Regions from separate parts of the Homo sapiens genome. Here region 2 is linked to region 1. The links come from fine-mapping of genetic effects on gene expression. A gene starts in region 1. The other region holds a variant in brackets. All regions are shown on one strand. Distances are between the middles of the regions.

Region 1 (5,384 bases):
ACAAGCACCCAGTAAATATTTTTTGAATGACTGAACAATAACCAGTTCATAAGGCTGATAAAATTGGTATAGCTAGATGAAGTATGATTTTGAGGGACTATGAAAATCAAAGTAACCACACAATAAATTATCAGCCCTCTACTTCCATTCAAAACAAGCTCCTGGGAATTGAATTATGAAATCTATCATATTACTTTCTCTAAAGAACTTCAAGTTGGGTGTCAACTAAAAAGTTGCAGGCGAGGCGCGGTGGCTCAAACCTGTAATCCCAGCACTTTGGTAGAACTGAGTATCTCTTGAGGCCAGGTTTGAAACCAGCCTGGTCAACATAACCAGACTCTGTCTTTACAAAAGAAAAATTAAAATTAGCCAGGCATGGTGGTGTGCATTTGTAGTCCCAGATACTTGAGACGCTGAGGCAGAAGGATCGTTTCGGAAGAGGCTGCAGGAGGCCATGATGGCACCACTGCACTCCAGCCTGGGTGACAGAGTGAGACCCTGCCTCAGAAAATAATAATAGGCCACGCATGGTGGCTCACACCTGTAATCCCAGCACTTTGGGAGGCTGGGGCGGGAACATCACCTCAGGTAAGGAGTTCAAGCCTGGCCAACACGGTGAAATTCCATCTCTACTAAAAATACAAAAAAAATTAGCCAGGCATGGTAGTGGGGACCTGTAATCCCAGCTACTCGGGAGGCTGAGGCAGGAGAATCACTTGAACCTGGGAGCTGGAAGTTGCAGTGAGCCAAGTTGGCACTATTGCACTGCAGCCTGGGCAACAAGAGCAAAACTCTGTCTCAAAAAATAAATAATAAAAAAAGTTTCAAAATGAGAATATATGTTTCAAAACAAGTATAATGAATATACTTATTGATTGGAAAATATAATTAGAAGTATCTATCAGGCTATAAATTGCTTTTCTTCTCCCTTCCATGGAAATTAGTTTTTTTTTCCATTTTTAGTCAGTATGAAAATACAAGGAAAAGGAAATTCAATCAAATTTACTTTTTAACATTTTATTTGGAAATAATTTCAAACTTACAGAAAAGTTGCAAAAACAGTACAAAGAACTCATACATTCATTTACTGTTTTTCCTTTTACCCTATATATTAGTTATTTATAGCTGTGTAACAAATAACCCCAAAGCTTAGTGGCTTACACCAAGTACTTTTCATCTTACACTGTTTCTGAGTCAGGATTCCAGGAGTGGCTAAGCTAGGTGGTCCTACCTCTGGGTCTCTCATGAAGTTGTAGTCAGCCAAAGGCTTGACCAAGGTTGGAGGATCTACTTCCAAAGTGACTCACTCCGTGGCATTTGGTAGGAGGCTACAAACAGTTCCTGGACAACTGGATCTCTCCATAGGCTGCTTGAGTGTCCTGAAAACACGGAAGCAGGCTTCCCCAGGCTCCAAGCCCCAAAATGAATGAAAAAGAGACCCGCAAAGGAAGATGCAGTGCCTTTTATGACCTAGCCTCTGAAGTCAATACTGTCACTTCTGTTTTGATCTATCAAGAGTCACTAAGCCTAGTCTACACTCAAGGGGAGGGGAATTAGAGTCCACCTCTTCCAGGGAGGAATATCATTGAATCTGTGAACATATCTTAGAACTACCATACCTAGTTTCAGTACTTTTAAACATTCGCCATTTTGCTTTGTCCCTCTCTTTTCCCCACCTACATATACATACACATACATGTTACTCCCTAACCATCTGAGAGTAGGGAGCATGCGGTGTATCCCTATCCCTCGTGTTTTTCTCTTAAGGAAAAGGATATTCTATTATACAACACGGTAGTTATCAATATCTAATTTTAACATTGTGATACTTTAAAGTCCACTTCCACTTGTGTAAATTGCCCTTTCTAGCAATGTTCCCATCAAATTTATTTTTAAACAATACAGTAAAAACGTAGAGGGCCACAAAGGGTGACATCGGTCAGGTAAGGTATTTTTTTTGGCAGGGAATAAAAAAGGTCCTGGGTCTAGGGAGGTAAACAAGCGTGAGCCAGCTGAGTTCTAGCGGGGGTCCCTGAACACCAAAAGGACAAGACTGTTTCTGAAACACTACATTATCTCTTAAGTTACCCATTACTTACGGAAAATGATTTTTTACTGTTCCCTTCGGTTCCTGTCTTGGTTAGAACACAGCTGGAGATTGTGTTAATAGCTTAGGACGTCTGTTTCCGTGAGCAGGTAACAACTTTTTGAAACAAATTCCCTCATCTGCTGAAGAAGGGGGACAAAAACGGCCCCTATCGCCCAGAACCGTTGCGAGGATTTAGCTAGCTGGTGACGCCGGAGCACGAAGTTGTACAGGTAGCCAGCAGCACCCACGCGAGCCCGCGGTTACCCTGGCCGCGCGGCTACTGTAGAGTGGGCTGGCGGCGAGCGGGCGGGGCGGTATCACGCGGGAGGGGCGGGGCCCGCTCGTCGGCTGATCGCACGATTGTGACGCGCCGCCGGAGGCAGGCCGGGCCCTCAAGATGGCGGCGGGCGCCCAGAGCGGCTCGGCCCGGCAGTAGTGGTGGGACGGCACTAGCTGCTGGGGCCTGCCGCCCCGGGAGTGGCTGCAGCAGCGCCAGGAATCGAGGATGGTAAAATGACCCAGGGGAAGAAGAAGAAACGGGCCGCGAACCGCAGTATCATGCTGGCCAAGAAGATCATCATTAAGGACGGAGGCACGGTGAGCTGAGTTCCGCGCCGGCGAGCGTCCCTCGGGGCCCCCATCCGGTCTCTCCTTCAGACCCCCACACTGCCGTCTCTAGGCGTCCCGGTGCCTCCCTCCCTTCCCCCACCCTGTCCGAGCTGCCGGTGCCTCGGGGTCGCGGACCCGCATGCCGCCGCTCCGGGAATCGTCCTCCGCTGCTCGGGCTTGCGGCCTCCGGGGCCCGTCCTCTTTCTTTCCCGCACCTGCCGCCCTCTGCTCTGGCCGCCTCTGCAGGCCCTGCGGCCTCGAACCCCACGTGCGCCTCCGCCGCGGGGAGGAATGTGCGGGGCTCCCCCGGCGGCCCGCCCGCCGCGCCCCTCGTCGCCGCAGCCTCGCCTCGCCTTCGCCGCCAGGCCCCGCGGAGCCGTCGCCGCGCTTGTCAAGGGGCTGGGAACCATCCCTGCTCTCCCATATGTTGCTAACGGGGTGGCGTCTGGCGCGGGGATCCCGCTGCGGCCCCGTAGTACGTTCGCTTTCTGTTTCCACGTCTCTCTGCGTCGGTGCTCCGGCTCTGGGCTGCTTACAGTAAACCCTGACCGGAGATGGGCTTCCCTCACTTCCCGGAGTCGGAAGCATGACGGCAGACACCTGGGGCCTACATTCGAACCTGCTAGTTTTCAAAGAAAAGTCATCACTGTGTGTCTTAAGATCAAAAGTATTAGAATCAGTCATGGCCTAAGGATCGGAGGAGGACACTTTGAAGGGAAGAAAGGTTTGCTTTTTAGAAACAGTTGTCATCACAGTAAACTTTATGCAGTGTGTAGTTAACCAGCTGGGGACGTAGGATTTTTAATTGAAAAACAAAACAAAACAAAACTGTTTTATGCTAACATTTCTCCGTTGCTACACTGTGTGGTCTTTGTTGCATCCGCTGATACCGCGTTCTGAAATAGAATGGAAAGGTGATATATATGTTTCACTTACCTGAAGTGTGCAGAAATTGTACCATTAATTCCATTTCTGTTTATATCTTATTGGAGCCGCGATCAACTGCTAGCACAGTAGTAAATGTGTAAGTAGGCCACCATTGAGGATTTGCTGAATTCAGTTGAAAAACGTGACAAAATTTTATGACATTTCAGAACACGGCCCAGTCAATATGCCAAAGTTTAGAAAACTTGAGACATATGTAATGACTTTGGAATATATTTTTAGTTTAACGTTTATTATATGTTATAGCTTTGACATTTATTGAAAAAAAGAAACAAATTCCTCAAGTTCTTTTTATTGAACTTGATTAATTAAAACATTACTTTGATTAGATCGGTTATGAAGAGTCATAGCTCTTTTGACCAAGTAGGTAAGAACTATGTGGGGAGAAAAATACTGTTGCCTTTGTCTACCTTTAGAAAGAGACAATATTTTACATTCTTCATAAAATCTACAAAATAGTGGCAATGAAAGATTGTATTTTGTAAGACCAAGTGATATTTAAGATCAGTATTTTTTACAAAATGTAAGAATGAAACTGATTAAGAAACACAGCTTCCTTTTCCTTGGAAAGTTCAGTTTTATTACCTTTCTTTGGGGTTTTGTTTGATTTGCTTTACAGCAGATGCTTTCTTTCCAAATCCTGTGAGTTTTGGAAAAGATCGTTTTTAAACTTTCTTGTCCTATTATTAAGGTTGTAATTAATTCTTAGCCTGCTTTGGGACACAAAATAAAATGTTTGCACCAGCAATAGGTTTCACATAGAACAAATGAAGACTTTTCTTGAGGGCTGTGAACATGGGGGCTATTATCATTTCTCATCTTTATACACTTAATATTTCATTCTCTATTCTAAGAGCACTGGGCACTCCTTTAGAAAAGGGGCTTTGTTTTGTATGTTTGGATCCCACAGGGCCTAGTATGTGAATTTTAAAGTGATAAAAACACTTCTATTTTGTACTAGCACATTCCTAGATGAATTTTTATTGTAATTTTGTTTATTCTTATACGTAATCAGAGGATATATTTCAATAAATATCAGGGGAATATTTTGCATTATTTGTATTTTAATCCATCCCAGCTTTAAATTTAAAAAGTATAACTATTGCAGTCATAGAAATGATTGTAAAATGGTAGTTGCTTATCTACCTCTCTACTTACAATAGTTCAGACTACTATTATGAACTTTTTTTGTTTGTTTGTTTGAGATGGAGTCTCACTCTGTTGCCCAGGCTGGAGGAGTGCAGTGGCAGGATCTCGGCTCACTGTAACCACCGCCTCCTGGGTTCAAGTGATTCTCCTGCCTCAGCCTCCCGAGTAGCTGGGACTACAGGCACGTGCCACCATGCCTGGCTAATTTTTTATATTTTCAGTAGAGACAAAGTTTCACCATATTGGTCAGGCTGGTCTTGAACTCCTGACCTCATGATTCACCCACCTTGGCCTCCCAAAGTGCAGGGATTACAGGTGTGAGCCACCGTGCCCAGACTGAACATTTTTTAAGAAAGGGGAAAAAATTGCCATTTGATACTCTGTTGTTGTGTGTTTTTTAATTCATCGTATCATAGAATATTTCAGTGCTATTGCTGTTGACCTCAGAGTTTCAGAGTTTTTATAAAGTTCCGCCAATGGGTAGATTCATTCAGTGAGATGTCTGAGGCTCTATGGTCGGTACATGACAGTCGTGAACAGTATTTCACATACCTGGTCAATGGTACTGATTTGATCCCCCTTCTGATTTCTT
Region 2 (5,355 bases), 140 kb before region 1:
TCACCTGAGAGCTTGTTAGAAATGCAGATTCTTGGACCCTATGCCAAACCTCCCAAATCCAAACCTGGACATAGAGAGAGTAGGGTTGGTGGGCAGAAATCTGTGTTTTCACAAGGTCTCTGGATGATTATCAACAGTCTAAGGCTGAAGTTTGAAAGCACTGCTCTAAAAGATAAAACTTTCAGCAAAAGGGCATTTATACGATACCTTGTTTTGATGCCATCAGGAAAATAACTGAAGTTTGCATCTTTACATGCCAAAATTTTATTTTTGATACTTTTAAAACTGAAGTTTTTAGGTGGGCATCTGAAATGAATTGCATTTTTGTTAATCCGATATATAGTAAGACCTTTTTGTATTACCATTATGGAGCTATAGAAATTTAGGAAGCTGTTTGCTTCTTCCCTAAATGCTCCTGAATTACTGATTTAGAAGAAGGAAATGGAACATCAGCATTCAGCATAGTATAGTGGTTAAGAACTTCGGCTTTACACCAGACTGCCAGCTTCTAATCCTGGTTCCAAACTACCAACTGACAAATTACCTTACTGGGTACTTGGGAGGATCAAATGAACACATACAGTTAAGGTGCCTAGAGTAATATCTGCCACATGCCTAGAGTAATATCTGCCACATGCTAAACAGTTCATAAATGTTAGTTTTTATCATTATTAATGTTTAGGCTCCCAATTATCACCTCTATGCAATATCACAAATTTGTGCTGCTTAATTTTACATAGAACTGTCTAGATTATTGGTTAGCAAACTGTGGCCTATCACCTGTTTTGTATGGCCTATGAGCAAAGAATAGCTTTTACCTTTTTTTTTTTTTTTGAGACGGAGTCTTGCTCTGTCACTCAGGCTGGAGTGCAGTGGCGCAATCTCCGCTCACTGCAAGCTCCGCCTCCCGGGTTCATGCCATTCTTCTGCCTCAGCCTCCTGAGTAGCTGGGACTACAGGCGCCCGCCACCACACCCGGCTAATTTTTTGTATTTTTAGTAGAGACCGGGTTTCACCATGTTAGCCAGGATGGTCTCGATATCCTGACCTTATGATCCGCCTGCCTCATCCTCCCAAAGTGCTGGGATTACAGGCGTGAGCCACTGCGCCCTACCAGAATAGCTTTTACCTTTTTCTTTTTAAAGGGTCATTTAAAAGAAGAAAGCATGTGCAACAGAATTCATATATGTCCCACAAAGCCTAAAATACTTAGTATATGGCCCTTTATAGAAAAGGTTTGCCTACCCCGATCTAGAGGTGATTCCCAGAGAATAATATATTATCCCAGAGGGTATTTGTTAGGGTAGTGCTAGCTGCCATAAATTATAAACACTTAAAATCTTAATGGCTTTTCACAAATAAAATTTATTTCTTGCTTGTAGTCGTAGACGCATGCTCAGTAAGCAGCCTTCTATATACTGATTCAGGGAAGCAGGTTTCTTCCAGCTTGAGGATCTGTCAGTTTCCATGGCTTCTGGGGCCTCTCCAGGAGGCAAGCAGAGAGGGAAAGAGAGCTGGGGGAACACACCTATTCTCCATACACTTAACATGCATCAGTTCTGGCCACAACCAACTGTAAGATTGGTTGTGAATTGTAGGAAATTCGTTTTAGTGGACATATACCTCTACCACAGATGGTTCTACTTCCTCCCTCTATAGAGGTAATCATGAATCAGAAGTCGTTTTATTAAAATGTACAAGATTGTTCCAGATGGTTAAGATTGCTAGCACTATGGCCAGGCATGGTGGCTCACAACTGTAATCAGCACTTTGGGAGCCTGAGGCGGGCAGATTGCTTGAGTCCACAAGTTCAAGACCAGCCTGGGCAACAGGGTCTCTTAAAAAAACAAATATATATGTATATATAGAGAGAGCTAGTATTCTGACCTTTTCTTAATTGAAAGTGTCACTGTCTATACTAATATTTTTATACTTTGTAAATAAAAAGTTTCCCATTGCATTACTGTTGAAAAGATGGGCATTAAGCTTAGACATAGAATTAATAAAAATTTCTGAGTGGTTTAGCCAAAAAGCAGTAAGACCTAGACATTTTAAATAACATTTCCAAGGCCACACAGATGGCAAAGCTAGGATTTAGACTTCAGCCTTCTTATTTCTTAATTTCATGCTGTTTCTAGAGTGCCTTTCTGTCTTACAAACAAAATTTTCATTTGGTATATAATAGTAAAATAATGCTTTAAAAAATTAACTGTCTTCAACCAGTTTTTAAACTGGTTGAATTATGTTTTTCAAGGTCAGCTTCTACCAGTTTGTTTTCTTTCTCTCTCTCTCTCTCTCTTTCTCTCTCTCTTTCTCTCTCTCTCTCTTTCCCTCCCTCCCTCCCTCCCTCTCTCCTTCCTTCCTTCCTTTCTTTCTTTCCTTCTTTCTTTCTTTTCTTTCTTTTTTTTGAGACTGAGTCTCGCTCTGCCATCCAGGCTGGAGTGCCGTGGCGCAATCTCCGCTCACTGCAAGCTCCGCCTCCCTGGTTCACGCCGTTCTCCTGCCTCAGCCTCCTGAGTAGCTGGGATTACAGGTGCCTGCCACTACGCCCGGCTAATTTTTTGTGTTTTTAGTAGAGACGGGGTTTCACCGTGTTAGTCAGGATGGTCTCGATCTCCTGACCTCGTGATCTACCCGCCTCAGCCTCCCAAAGTGCTAGGATTACAGGCCTGAGCCACCACGCCCGGCCTTCTTTCTTTTCTTTCTTCTTTTTTTTTTTGATAGAGTCTTGCTCTGTTGCCCAGACTGGAGTACACTGGCACAATCTCAGCTCACTGCAACCTCTGCCTCCTGGGTTCAGGCAATTCTCTTGCCTAAGCCTTCTGAGTAGCTGGGACTACAGGCACGCACCACCATTCCTGGCTTATTTTTGTATTTTTAGTAGAGACAGCGTTTCACCATGTTGACCAGGCTGGTCTCAAACTCCTGACCTCAGGTGTTCCGCCCGCCTCGGCCTCCCAAAATGCTGAGATTACAGGTGTGAGCCACTATGCCCAGCCAGTTTGTTTTCCTATATGTTTGTTTTACTCTTGGTTTCTGCTATTTAAAATAATTAAGTTCTTGTTTAATAGTTACTTCGATTTTGAAATACCATAGACTTCAAAAGTAGAATCTGGAGCTATGAGGGACCTTAAAAATCACCCAGTCCAATCTCAAATGAAAAAACTGTATCAGAGAGGGAGTCACACAGATTGTTAGCATAAAATTCTAGTCTAGAATCAAGGTTCCTGACTTTAATTCAGTACTTACTCTATCATACTATGACTACTTTCTACATGAAAATATAAAGAAATAGGGCAAGAGAGAAAACGCATTCAAAATATAGTCACCAAAAGTGACTGGTTTTTGTCTTCA[A/G]TTTTTAAGTGTTTGTTTTCATTTCTGATCCACTTAATTCTGTTGTTTTAGGAATATTATTTTAGCATTTGCGGGTACCCTGAGGCATGGTCTCATTCCTAATCTACTGGGTGAAGGAATTTATGCCAGATACAATTGTCGGGATGCTGTGTGGTGGTGGCTGCAGTGTATCCAGGATTACTGTAAAATGGTTCCAAATGGTCTAGACATTCTCAAGTGCCCAGTTTCCAGAATGTATCCTACAGATGATTCTGCTCCTTTGCCTGCTGGCACACTGGTAAAGATATTTCTTAAAATGTTTTTTTGTTTTTTTTTTTTTTTCTGAAAAATGACTTTTAGTTTCTAATGTAAAAATAAGGGTAATTAAGAATCCAAATCTTACGAATTATTCAAATGTCAGTATTGATTTGGCACCTGCTGGTACTATAAGTGATTGGTCTTTGCCTGAAGAACTTTGCAACATGGTAGAAGAGATGATGATGTGTACATAAATATGGCCATTGCAATAGATTGTAGAGGAAGTGTTGTGTAGTCTCTTAAAAGAGAGAGAAGGTCCAGTAGGTAGGTCTCAGGGAGAACGTTAGAAAGTAGCTAAAGTTTCACCTAAATGAGCCATAAAAGGTGAGTAGGACTTTCGGAGAGATGGAGAAAGTTGTTGGGAGACATTAGAGTTGAAAAGAAGCCAGGTGTATGGCACACACCTGTAATCTCAGCTTCTCAGGAGGCTGAGGCAGAAGGATCACTTGAGGCCAGGAGTATGAGTCCAGCCTAGGCAACATAGCAAAACTCAGTCTCTTTAAAAAAAAAAAAAAAAAAAAAAAGAGGAAAGGAATAATAGGGTTGCATAGTGGATTGAAGCACAGTTTAGGGGACATAGTACTTAATAGTGTTTTTGTAAGAGCCTAGGCTCTTATAAAATACGTTTTGTGAAAAAGTCAATATGGTTTGGCTTTTTGTGTAGGATACCTGCAGGGTAGTAAGAGATTATGGAAAGGGTGAGCCAGGTTATGGAGAGCCTTGACTACCAATCCAGGGAGCTTAAAGATTATCTTATGAACAGTGAAGAATGGATAGACATTTTTGAGTGTTTTTTTTTCCCTAATCAAGAATGGACAATAATACTATACTTTTGCCACTTCTGATCTGCCTTTATGTTAATAGTTTGTTATATATGATTGGGGGGGCTGGGAGGGGATAGTAGCTTTGTAAGCTACTCCAGGGTTAGCATATATTTGTGTTCTCATGATATTTATTTATATCATGAAGTACTCAACATTTGTCCAAAATTTTTTTATTTGTCCTCTGTTATCAACTGACATTTCTGTTACAATGAATATAGGTTCATGCTATCAGGCAGGTAATTATTTTACACATAACTTTGTTTTCTCACAGTTTATCCAAAAATATTCACAGCATTATAATTTTTATAATTAATAGTAGAATTTTTATATTATAGAGTTTTGGTTATATTCAGAGTCTTTAAAATGAAACATAATAAACATGTAAGGACTCTAAACATTTTGCTTCTATTTAACATTCTTTACCTTATTTTTAAAAATATAATTGTATATTTTCCCAAATGTCATCCTGAGTATCACATTTATTATTTATATGGGTAAAGAAAATGACTTATGAATTCTTTACATTCACTGGGGTATTTTCCAAAGTCATTATGGATCCTCAAATTTGAGAGTTTCCCTTTAGCTCATAATTTACCCCCATTACCTGTGTATGCAGATGAGTAAAAATAGCAATGCCAATTTAAAATTCAGATGCTGGATAACAAGCTAGGTTCGTTTATTAGCTGAAGAGATCACTCTGATAGAAACTGTAGAAGCTCACTAGATTTGTTTTTGTGTATCAGCAGATTATTTTATGTCACAGACATGAATAGTCAAAACTACTGATGTTAAATATTTGTATGCTCGTCTGTATTATTTGGTATATAGGAGCTGCTTCTTCCCTGGCCTCACCCCAATTCCTATTTCTCACTTCAAAGGA

Evidence for each region. PIP is the estimated chance that this variant, and not a neighbour inherited with it, causes the effect.
Region 2: its variant is the best candidate, but not a certain one, in a credible set for the expression of SLC71A1 in whole blood (TOPMed, PIP 0.66).

What each region holds. Positions count from the first base shown.
Region 1 is chr1:100,035,631-100,041,014 of GRCh38, forward strand. SLC71A1 (solute carrier family 71 member 1) reads left to right here and starts at 2,465. Exons shown (of 12, transcript NM_033055.3): 1 at 2,465-2,686. The coding sequence starts at 2,603. It overlaps LOC124904230 (a long non-coding RNA gene), which reads right to left and starts at 2,378. Exons shown (of 7, transcript XR_007066251.1): 1 at 2,100-2,378. It overlaps SLC35A3 (solute carrier family 35 member A3), which reads left to right. Exons shown (of 8, transcript NM_012243.3): 8 at 1-4. RefSeq lists enhancers at 1,937-2,539, 2,502-2,781 and silencers at 2,262-2,441, 2,902-3,091.
Region 2 is chr1:99,897,231-99,902,585 of GRCh38, forward strand. AGL (amylo-alpha-1,6-glucosidase and 4-alpha-glucanotransferase) reads left to right here. Exons shown (of 34, transcript NM_000642.3): 26 at 3,406-3,631. Among named protein-coding and RNA genes, the nearest start is that of AGL, 50 kb to the left of the region's middle. The variant A/G (reference allele first, on the strand shown) is at 3,355.